2 separate regions of the Homo sapiens genome follow, and region 1 is linked to region 2. Evidence: fine-mapped expression QTL. A gene starts in region 2. The other region holds a variant in brackets. All regions are shown on one strand. Distances are between the middles of the regions. Region 1 has its middle 21 kb from the start of MDM2. Region 2 holds the start of MDM2 (MDM2 proto-oncogene).

The links. PIP is the estimated chance that this variant, and not a neighbour inherited with it, causes the effect.
Region 1: its variant is the best candidate, but not a certain one, in a credible set for the expression of MDM2 in whole blood (INTERVAL, PIP 0.54).

What each region holds. Positions count from the first base shown.
Region 1 is chr12:68,785,440-68,789,833 of GRCh38, reverse strand. No RefSeq gene overlaps it. Among named protein-coding and RNA genes, the nearest start is that of MDM2, 21 kb to the left of the region's middle. RefSeq lists enhancers at 1,481-2,034, 2,035-2,589. The variant T/C (reference allele first, on the strand shown) is at 2,391.
Region 2 is chr12:68,805,918-68,810,299 of GRCh38, reverse strand. It overlaps MDM2 (MDM2 proto-oncogene), which reads right to left and starts at 2,123. Exons shown (of 11, transcript NM_002392.6): 1 at 1,809-2,123; 2 at 1,008-1,092. The coding sequence starts at 1,822. RefSeq lists enhancers at 1,146-1,535, 635-1,834 and a silencer at 2,036-2,425.

The sequences.
Region 1 (4,394 bases), 20 kb after region 2:
CTTGCGTCGGCCTCCCAAAGTGCTAGGATTATAGGTGTGAGCCACCGCACCCAGCCAATAATCATAATTTTTAAAAGAAACTGTCCCAGCTACTCAGGAGGCTGAAGTAGGAGGATCACTTGAGCCAGGGAGTTCGAGGTTGCAGTGAGCCGTGATGGTGCCACTGCACTCCAGCCTCGGTGACAGAGCAAGACCTTGTTTCAAAAAACAAAACAAAACAAGAACTATAGTTCTTGTTTTTTTTTTTTTTTTTGAGACAGTCACCCAGGCACATGCCACCGCACCTGACTAATTTGGTTTTTTTTGTATTTTTAGTAGAGACGGGGTTGCACCATATTGATCAGGCTGGTCTCAAACTCTTGACTTCAGGTGATCCACCCGCTTCAGCCTCCCAGAGTGCTGGGATTACAGGCGTTAGCCACCGCGCCCAGCCCAAAAACTATAGTTCTTACAGTGGAAGGTGGAAGGAGTTGCAATTGAAAATAGTTAGATGTTCTAAGCAGCATGTTGATAAAGGTGGGGAAACCAAGCTGTGTGTACTTAGAAATGGGAGAAGACTAGTAATCATTAACTAGAGAGGTCTATTGATCTCTAGGGCCTCACTCATCCAGCAGAGGTTTAGGTGGCAAGCATAAGGTTAAAAATCCCAGGCCTTTCCAGAAGACTGGTGAGTCACATGGACGGGTGGACCAAGAACTGTTGGACATTTAGTTGCTTTCCTATTTTTTTTGCTATTATCAATAATGTTTCTCAGCCTGATGGTGCACACCAACTTAGGAGACTGAGGCAAGAGGATTGCTTTAGCCCAGGAGTTGGAGGTTGCAGTGAGCTATACTCGCACCACTGCACTCCAGCCTGGGCAACAGAGCAAGACCCTGTCTCTAAAAATGATAATAATAATAATGCTGTGATAAACTTCTCTGCACAAAAATCTTTATGCAGGGCTGGACGTGGTGGCTTACACCTGTAATCCCAGTACTTCAGGTGGCTGAGGCCAGAGAATCACTTGAGGCCAAGAGCTCAAGACTAGCCTGGGCAACAAAGAGAGACCTTGTCTTTACAAAAAAATTAAAAAAAAAATAAAAAACTTAGGCACACTCGGTGTCATAAGCCTGTAGTCTCAGCTACTCAGGAGGCTGAGGTAGGAAGATGGCTTGACCATGGAAGTTTGAGGCTGCAATGAGTTATGATCTTGCCACTGCACTCCAGCCATGGTGACAGTGAGACCCCATCTACAAAGAAAATCTTTTTGCACATCTTTACTTTCTTAGGATAAACTCCTGAAAGTGGATTTTCTGGGTTACAGGGCATGAGCATTTTTGTGGCTATGCAATTTATGGTCTCATGATGAATGTAAGATGGTACTTGTTTTCCCATACCCTCGACAGGACTAAATTTGGGAAAACATGGATTTATAGGTCTCTATGAAAATTAAAATGTTTCCCAATTTTATATGTTTAAAAATTTCATTTAAGAACAATTTAAATCCATTGGAAAGAGCTGTAGAAAAAGGAATTTGTAGTAAAAGGGATTTGCTTTGTGTTGTACTTCAGTGAGTGCTGGGTCTTTTTTTTGTATTAATATTCCCAAGTTGAAGTAGAAGTGTTCATCAATGCTTTAACTTGTGGGCTTAAAGGAGAGGTGTGATACAAGGAAAAAGGGGTGGTGGAAAATATTTTTTAAAAAAATGTAACAGGCCGGTTGTGATGGCTCACACCTGTAATCCAAGCACTTTGGGAAGCTGAGGCAGGTGGATCACTTGAGGTCAGGAATTCGAGACCAGCCTGGCCAACATGGTGAAACCCCGTGCCTACTAAAAATACAAAAATTAGCCAGGCATGGTGACACCCGCCTGTAATCCCAGCTACTTGGGAGGCTGGGGCAGAAGAATTGCTTGAACCCAGGAGGAGGAGTTTACAGTGAGCCAAGATCGTGCCACTGAATTACAGTCTGGGTGACAGAGCGAAACTCCATCTCAAAAAAAAAAAAAAAAAGGAACACGATAAGAAATCAAGGCGAAAAGAAGAAAAGAACAAACATGGGAAAGGAAAATGATGGGAAAGCAGGCAGGCCCGGACTCTGGCCACCGCACGGGCTTTTGCCTGGACTTGCCCATTTTCCTGTGTCATTGCTGTCCCATGTTTTCAGTTCACAAGTTGAGCAACTGCAGCTTCCTTTATCATTAGAAGAGGAAATGAAAGAGCAAGGGTACAAGTAATTACTGGGGCCAGCACAGAATGTTTTTTGTTTGTTTTTTTCTTTTTTTTTTTTTTGCCCGGCTTGTTTTGTTTTTTTAGAGGGAAAACCCATGTGTTGCAACTTGTTCAATCACCAGGATTTTAGTCCTCTGACCTTCAGACGTTAGTCATTCCTTCCTCTTAAACAGCTCC[T/C]TCCCTAGTTTTTGAACTGGTCTTTGGGTTAAACACAACAGGGCCCTTCTAACCTCTCAGAAAAGTCTGAGAAATAAATTCAAATTCTAATAAGTAGTATTTCTGAATGTTAAAATATGTATGAATTGGCTACATATTTTATATTGTTAGTTCTCTCAGGATCTTTCCTATATAGTGAAATTCACTGAGCTAAAATGTAATGTTAAATACTTACAAGAGGCTTTGGTTATAAAATGACTGAAGAGGAATTTCTCTATAAATAGGTTTAGGTTTAGGAAACCTGCAATAGCAGTGGCTCCACCTAAAGACCAGAAAATGACACAGTCTAACTGTGATGTTTTCAAGCTTAGAGGCGGTCATTCACTTTAAAAGTAAAGCGACATGGTTTTTATCTCTCACCACCTTGCTTAAAAGTGATGCAGATAACTTAAAAAGTGATTTAAAAACATAAATTCAGCACATAAAACACATAATCCATAAAACACAGCACATAAAAGTATGATAGAAAATTATTTAATAATTTTAAAAAGTAAATTGTAGTTACTCTTAAAAGAAGACTAGAGTCTTTGCCACAGTTAAAAAGTAAGTAAGGTTAGGCCAGGCGCGGTGGCTCAAGCCTGTAATCCCAGCACTTTGGGAGCCCAAGGTGGGCAGATCACGAGGTCAGGAGTTCGAGACCAGCCTGGCCAATATGGTGAAACCTCCGTCTCTACTAAAAATACAAAAATTAGCCGGGCGTGGTGGCAGACGCCTGTAGTCCCAGCTACTCGGGAGGCTGAGGCAGGAGAATCGCTTGAACCTGGGAGGTGGAGGTTGCAGTGAGCCGAGATCGTGCCACTGCACTCCAGCCTGCGTGACAGAGCGAGACTATGTCTCAAAAAATAAACACATAAAAATAAAATAAAAAGTAAGTAAGGTTAAAAAGAAAGAAAAGTAAACTAGAGTCCAGACCAAACTAGACCAGAACTTTCCTAGCAAAATTGAAACAGTTATTTAGCTGAGTGTGGAAAGGTAAATCCTATGCATCATGTCACAAGTACACACATCATTGCTAGGTGGGATGGCTCATGCTTGTAATCCCAGTGCTTTGGGAGGCTGAGGCAGGAGGATTGCCGGAGCCCAGGAAGGTGGCTTGAGACTGCAATGAGCTGTGATTGTGCCACTGTAGTCCAACCTGGGGGTCAGAGACCCTGTCTCAAAAAATAAAAAACAAAAAAACCCCGCAACAACAACAAAAAAGAAGTTCACCATCAACCAGTTTATTGATTTACTGCCACTATCCTCTTGGCCAAGTATCAAAATATTTTAAGCATGAATTTGGCTGTGACCCTTAATTCATTAATTAATTCATTTACTTTTAGAGATAGGGTCTCGCTATGTTGGCTAGGTTGGAGTGCAAAGTCTATTCGAGGCATGACTGTAGTGCACTACAACCTTGAACTCCTGGGCTGAAGCGATCCTCCCACCTCAGCCTTTCAAGTAGCTGGCACCACAGGCTCACACCATCATACCCAGCAATTCATATATTTAACGAATATTTACTGGCACAGTGCAAGGCATTTAAAATATAGCCTGATTAAAACATATATAACCTGTGCCTTTTTTGAGCTTGCAGTATAGTAAAGGAGAAATACAAGAAGCAAATAAATATATAATTGCAAACTGGGATGAGGCATTAGAAGGAAAAGAACTGAGTTCCTAAAAGAGAGACTAGCAAGGTTGATCTTGCTAGTCTGAAATCTGACTGAGATACCATGAGTAATGATCACTTGATTACTCAGAGAACTGCAGCATTTTGGTACAGCTGGTGGTACGTTAATATTTCCTTGTTCATATCTGTGTCCTTGCATAACTTTTTAATATTTGGCCATGCTCTTTGGCCTCTAAATTGAAAGCTCTGTGGTGAAAGGCACTATCTTCCACTTCTTCCTAATTTTCAGAGTATAATACGGGGTGCTGTGTGCAGGACTCATGCTCCTGACTGAATAAAAGACTATTTCTTTG
Region 2 (4,382 bases):
TCGCTCTTATCGCCCAGGCTGGAGTGAAATGGCGCAATCTTGGCTCACCGCAACCTCTGCCTCCTGGGTTCAAGCGATTCTCCTGCCCCAGCCTCCTCAGCAGGGGATTATAGGCGCGCGCCACCATGCCCGACTAATTTTTGTATTTTTAGTAGAGACAGGTTTTCACCATGTTGGCCAGGCTAGTCTTGAACTCCTCATCTCAGGTGATCGGTCCGCCTTGGCCTCCCAAAGTGATGGGATTACAGGGGTGAGCCACCGAGGCCAGCCTATAATTCTATAAAATCTTTCTTACAGAAATAGTCACACGGGATGCATGTACAAAGCGGCACTATCTGTAATACTCAAAAACAGGAGGCAATTTTTAAAAACCTATCAGTAAAGGCATAAATAATTTTTAAAATGGTATACTCATGCTGTGGAATACTATGCAGCCATTAAAAAGAATTCTGTAGACTTTATTTATTGACAAGGATGCAAGTCACAGAACAACTACAGTTTCATCTTGTTAGTACAACAAACAGGACAATAACATAGATTTAAATTCAAATGTAAATATATGTGGGTACGCACACAAAAAATCTAAAAGGAAACATGGAGCAAAAAGCCTGGAATTTTCAGGTTTTACTTTAAAATTTCTCTAATGACAAAAATCTTTAAAACAAGCACGAATAACTTTTTTGACTTTTAGAAACCATTTTTAAAAATTAAATACTGGGAGGTCAAAAAGGAAAAAAAAATCAGTCACGTAACAAACGTAACTTCAACCACGCTTAACAATGTAATGGAACTAATTTTTAAAGCAAATGTGGCAAATGGCTAAAAAAATACTGACCAGTTCTTAACAGTTTTTAACTCCACGCAGTTACGCCAGAGGTAGCACACTTTAAGCTATGCACATACAATTTTATTTACAGAGCCATGCTACAATTGAGGTATACGAAATTTAGTTTATCACTTCATAAAATAAATTATTCTTAAAAGTTACACGAGACAAAAATACTAACCAGGGTCTCTTGTTCCGAAGCTGGAATCTGTGAGGTGGTTACAGCACCATCAGTAGGTACAGACATGTTGGTATTGCACATTTGCCTACAAGGAAAAAAAAGACACGATGAAAACTGGAAATCATGAAACATCTGTGGAAAATACATCATATATAAAGAACATAAACAACAGTTAAAACTAAAGCTACAAGCAAGTCGGTGCTTACCTGGATCAGCAGAGAAAAAGTGGCGTGCGTCCGTGCCCACAGGTCTACCCTCCAATCGCCACTGAACACAGCTGGGAAAATGCATGGTTTAAATAGCCCCAGCTGGAGACAAGTCAGGACTTAACTCCTTTTACTGCAGTTTCGGAACGTGTCTGAACTTGACCAGCTCAAGAGGAAAAGCTGAGTCAACCTGCCCACTGAACCGGCCCAATCCCGCCCAGACTACGCGCAGCGTTCACACTAGTGACCCGACAGGCACCTGCGATCATCCGGACCTCCCGCGCCGAAGCGGCCCCGCAGCCCCCGGCCCCCGTGACCTTTACCCTGAACTCCCGCGGAGACCTCCGAACCACCCCCACCCCCACCGCCGCGAGAGCCGTCCGAAATCCCGCCCTCCTCCCTGGCGGCGACTGCCTAGCCCCAGTCCAACAAAACCTCCGCAAAGCCACGTGCCCCATGCCCCGCGCCCCGCGCCCCGAGCCCCCAGCCACGAACCGCACAAAGGCTGCGAACGGGCAGAGGCTGGGAACCAGCGATAGAGGGGACACCGTCAGAGCCCAGACCCAAAAGTGACCGCTCGCTGCCGGGCCAGTACCTGCTCCTCACCATCCGGGGTTTTCGCGCTTGGAGTCGGGGGTCCCTCAAGACTCCCCAGTTTCCTTCACGGGGCGCGCGGAAGCACGACGCCCTGGGCCTCGGGGATCATTCCACTCTCCGGGCCAGGGCACTGGGCGCTCGTACGCACTAATCCGGGGAGGGACGGTGCTCCTGGCTGCGAAAGCAGCAGGATCTCGGTCAGAGGGGTCGCGGCCGCCCCTCGGGCTCGGCTTCTTGCTCCATCTTTCCGACACACAGGGCCACACAGGCCCCAGAAGCAGCCAAGCTCGCCGCGGTGCCTCGGTGCGCGCCCCCTACCGCCCGAGGGGAGCGCGCGGGTCGTCGCGGCGCATCCGGGCATTTGTGCGCGCGCACACAACCGGCCCCGCTTCCGCCAATTGGGTCCGGGGCTCGGCCGCACCACCTCCGGGATGATGGAGTGGGGGGTGTCGCCCCGCGGGCGCGGCGGGCTGTGAGGCGGGGTGGGGGTGTTGGCCGCGAGCTGAGAGGGTGGGGCTCGGCCTGGCGCGGAGCCAGCAAGGTTTGGCGCTGTGACACTCCTTTAGCCGTTGCGCTATGTTTGTATTTCTTGTGTTTACACTTCCCGCCCGCGGTGGAAACTGCGACAAATGCGGATCTCCGTGTCGCTGTTACCAAAAAGAAACCAAAATTAACAGCTGTTTAATATATTAAGCCCACTCCACCAGCCGCTGGAGTTGTACCCAAATGAGTTATTTTAAGGCCTGTTTTTAAAAAAGATTAAAAATAGCACTTAAGGCAGGCTTATACACCGGTGCATACAGCTGTTCTGGTTGGAGAACGAAGATGCTGGTTACCGTTGGCGGGGAGGGGAGCGGTTACTCTGCGCTTTTAGAATGTTTGGGTTTGGCTGGGCGCGGTGGCTCACGCTTGTAATCCCATCACTTTGGGTAGGCCGAGGCGGGTGGATCACTTGAGGTCAGGAGTTCAAGACCAACCTGGCCAACATGGGAAACGCCGTCTCTACTAAAAACTACAAAAATTAGTCGGGCGTGGTGGCGGTCACCTGTAATCCCAGCTACTCTACTCCGGAGGCTGAGGCAGGACAATCCTGTGAACCCGGGAGGCAGAGGCTGCAGTGAGCCAAGATCATGCCATTGCACTCCAGCCTGGGCGACAGGGCAAGACTCTCAAAAAAACAAAAACAAAGTTTGGGTTTGTTAATCTACACATTCATTATCATTAAAATATATACTTATATATTATGCACTCATTCTGACTCACCTACTTTCCCACAGAGATGTGGCAAAAACGTTTTTGATGCGGTCTCATAAATTGAGGACATAAAGAATTGAGTTAGCTAAACCCAAAAACACAGCCATTGCAAAGAAGGAACACGTTTCTTCTCTGGCCAGTAAGTGATTAGCTCCTTGTGAACAAGGACCTTTTTTTATAAAGTTATATCCTTCCCTTCTGCAGCTTTTTTTTTTTTATAAAGTTATATCCTTCCCTTCTCCCGCTTCCCAGCCTACCAGAAAGGAAACTTCCTTAAACATAGTGGTCACTCAGTTGATTTAAGTTGATTGCCAATATTATTAACTTAAGAGATTTAATATGTGGCTTTTAAAAAGATAATCTCATCTTCATCAGATCATATACAGTGGGGTTTCTAATAGACTCAGTGCTTGACCCTGGATGAAAGAAAATCTCAAGCAGTGAGAAAATGTAAGCATGAAAAGATAAGTGATAGGCTGCGCACGGTGGCTCACGCTTGTAATCCCAGCACTTTGGGAGGCTGAGGTGGGTGGATCACGAGGTTAGGAGTTCGAGACCAGCCTGGCCAAGATGGTGAAACCTTGTCTCTACTAAAAATACAAAAATTAGCCGGGCCCCGTGGCGGGCGCCTGTAATCCTAGCCACTTGGGAGGCTGAGGCAGAAGAATCGCTTGATCTCGGGAGGCAGAGGTTGCAGTGAGCGGAGATCGCGCCACTGCAGTCCAGCCTGGGTGACAGAGCAAGACTCCATCTCAGAAGAAAAAAAAAAAAAAAGAGATAAGTGATAGAGGTTGATATTTGTTAAATATCAAGTGAACGAATGGGTTTGTGCTATAAAAGTTCAGAGACAGAATTAATTGCTTAGTAAATGCTGGAGGCAGTTCACAAAGGCCTCAGAGATCACACATATTTTGTGTCTTGAAAGATGGTGAGACTTAAATAAAAGCAGAGAATATTCCAGGCACAAGAAAATTATCAAAAAATACAGAAAGGAAAATATAAGAGGACTGTTTGAGATACAATAAATAAATCCGTTTGACTTGCATGAAAGTCAAGAAGAAGTTTTAAGAACTTGGAGTCTCCTTAAATGCCAAGCAAGGAAATTTGGGCTTTCGACAGAGTAGACATTAGAAGCATAAAAACAAGTGATTTGCTTCAAACTGTATTTTAACAGGACCACCAAGAGTAGATTCAAACTCAGAATAGTCGGGCCGGCTGCCTTCTGGACCGACTTTCCCCCTTCTCATTGGCCTTGTGCTTTGAAAAAATTATCTTGACAAAATTATTAGAGCAGAAAAAAAAAGGCAGAACTGATAAG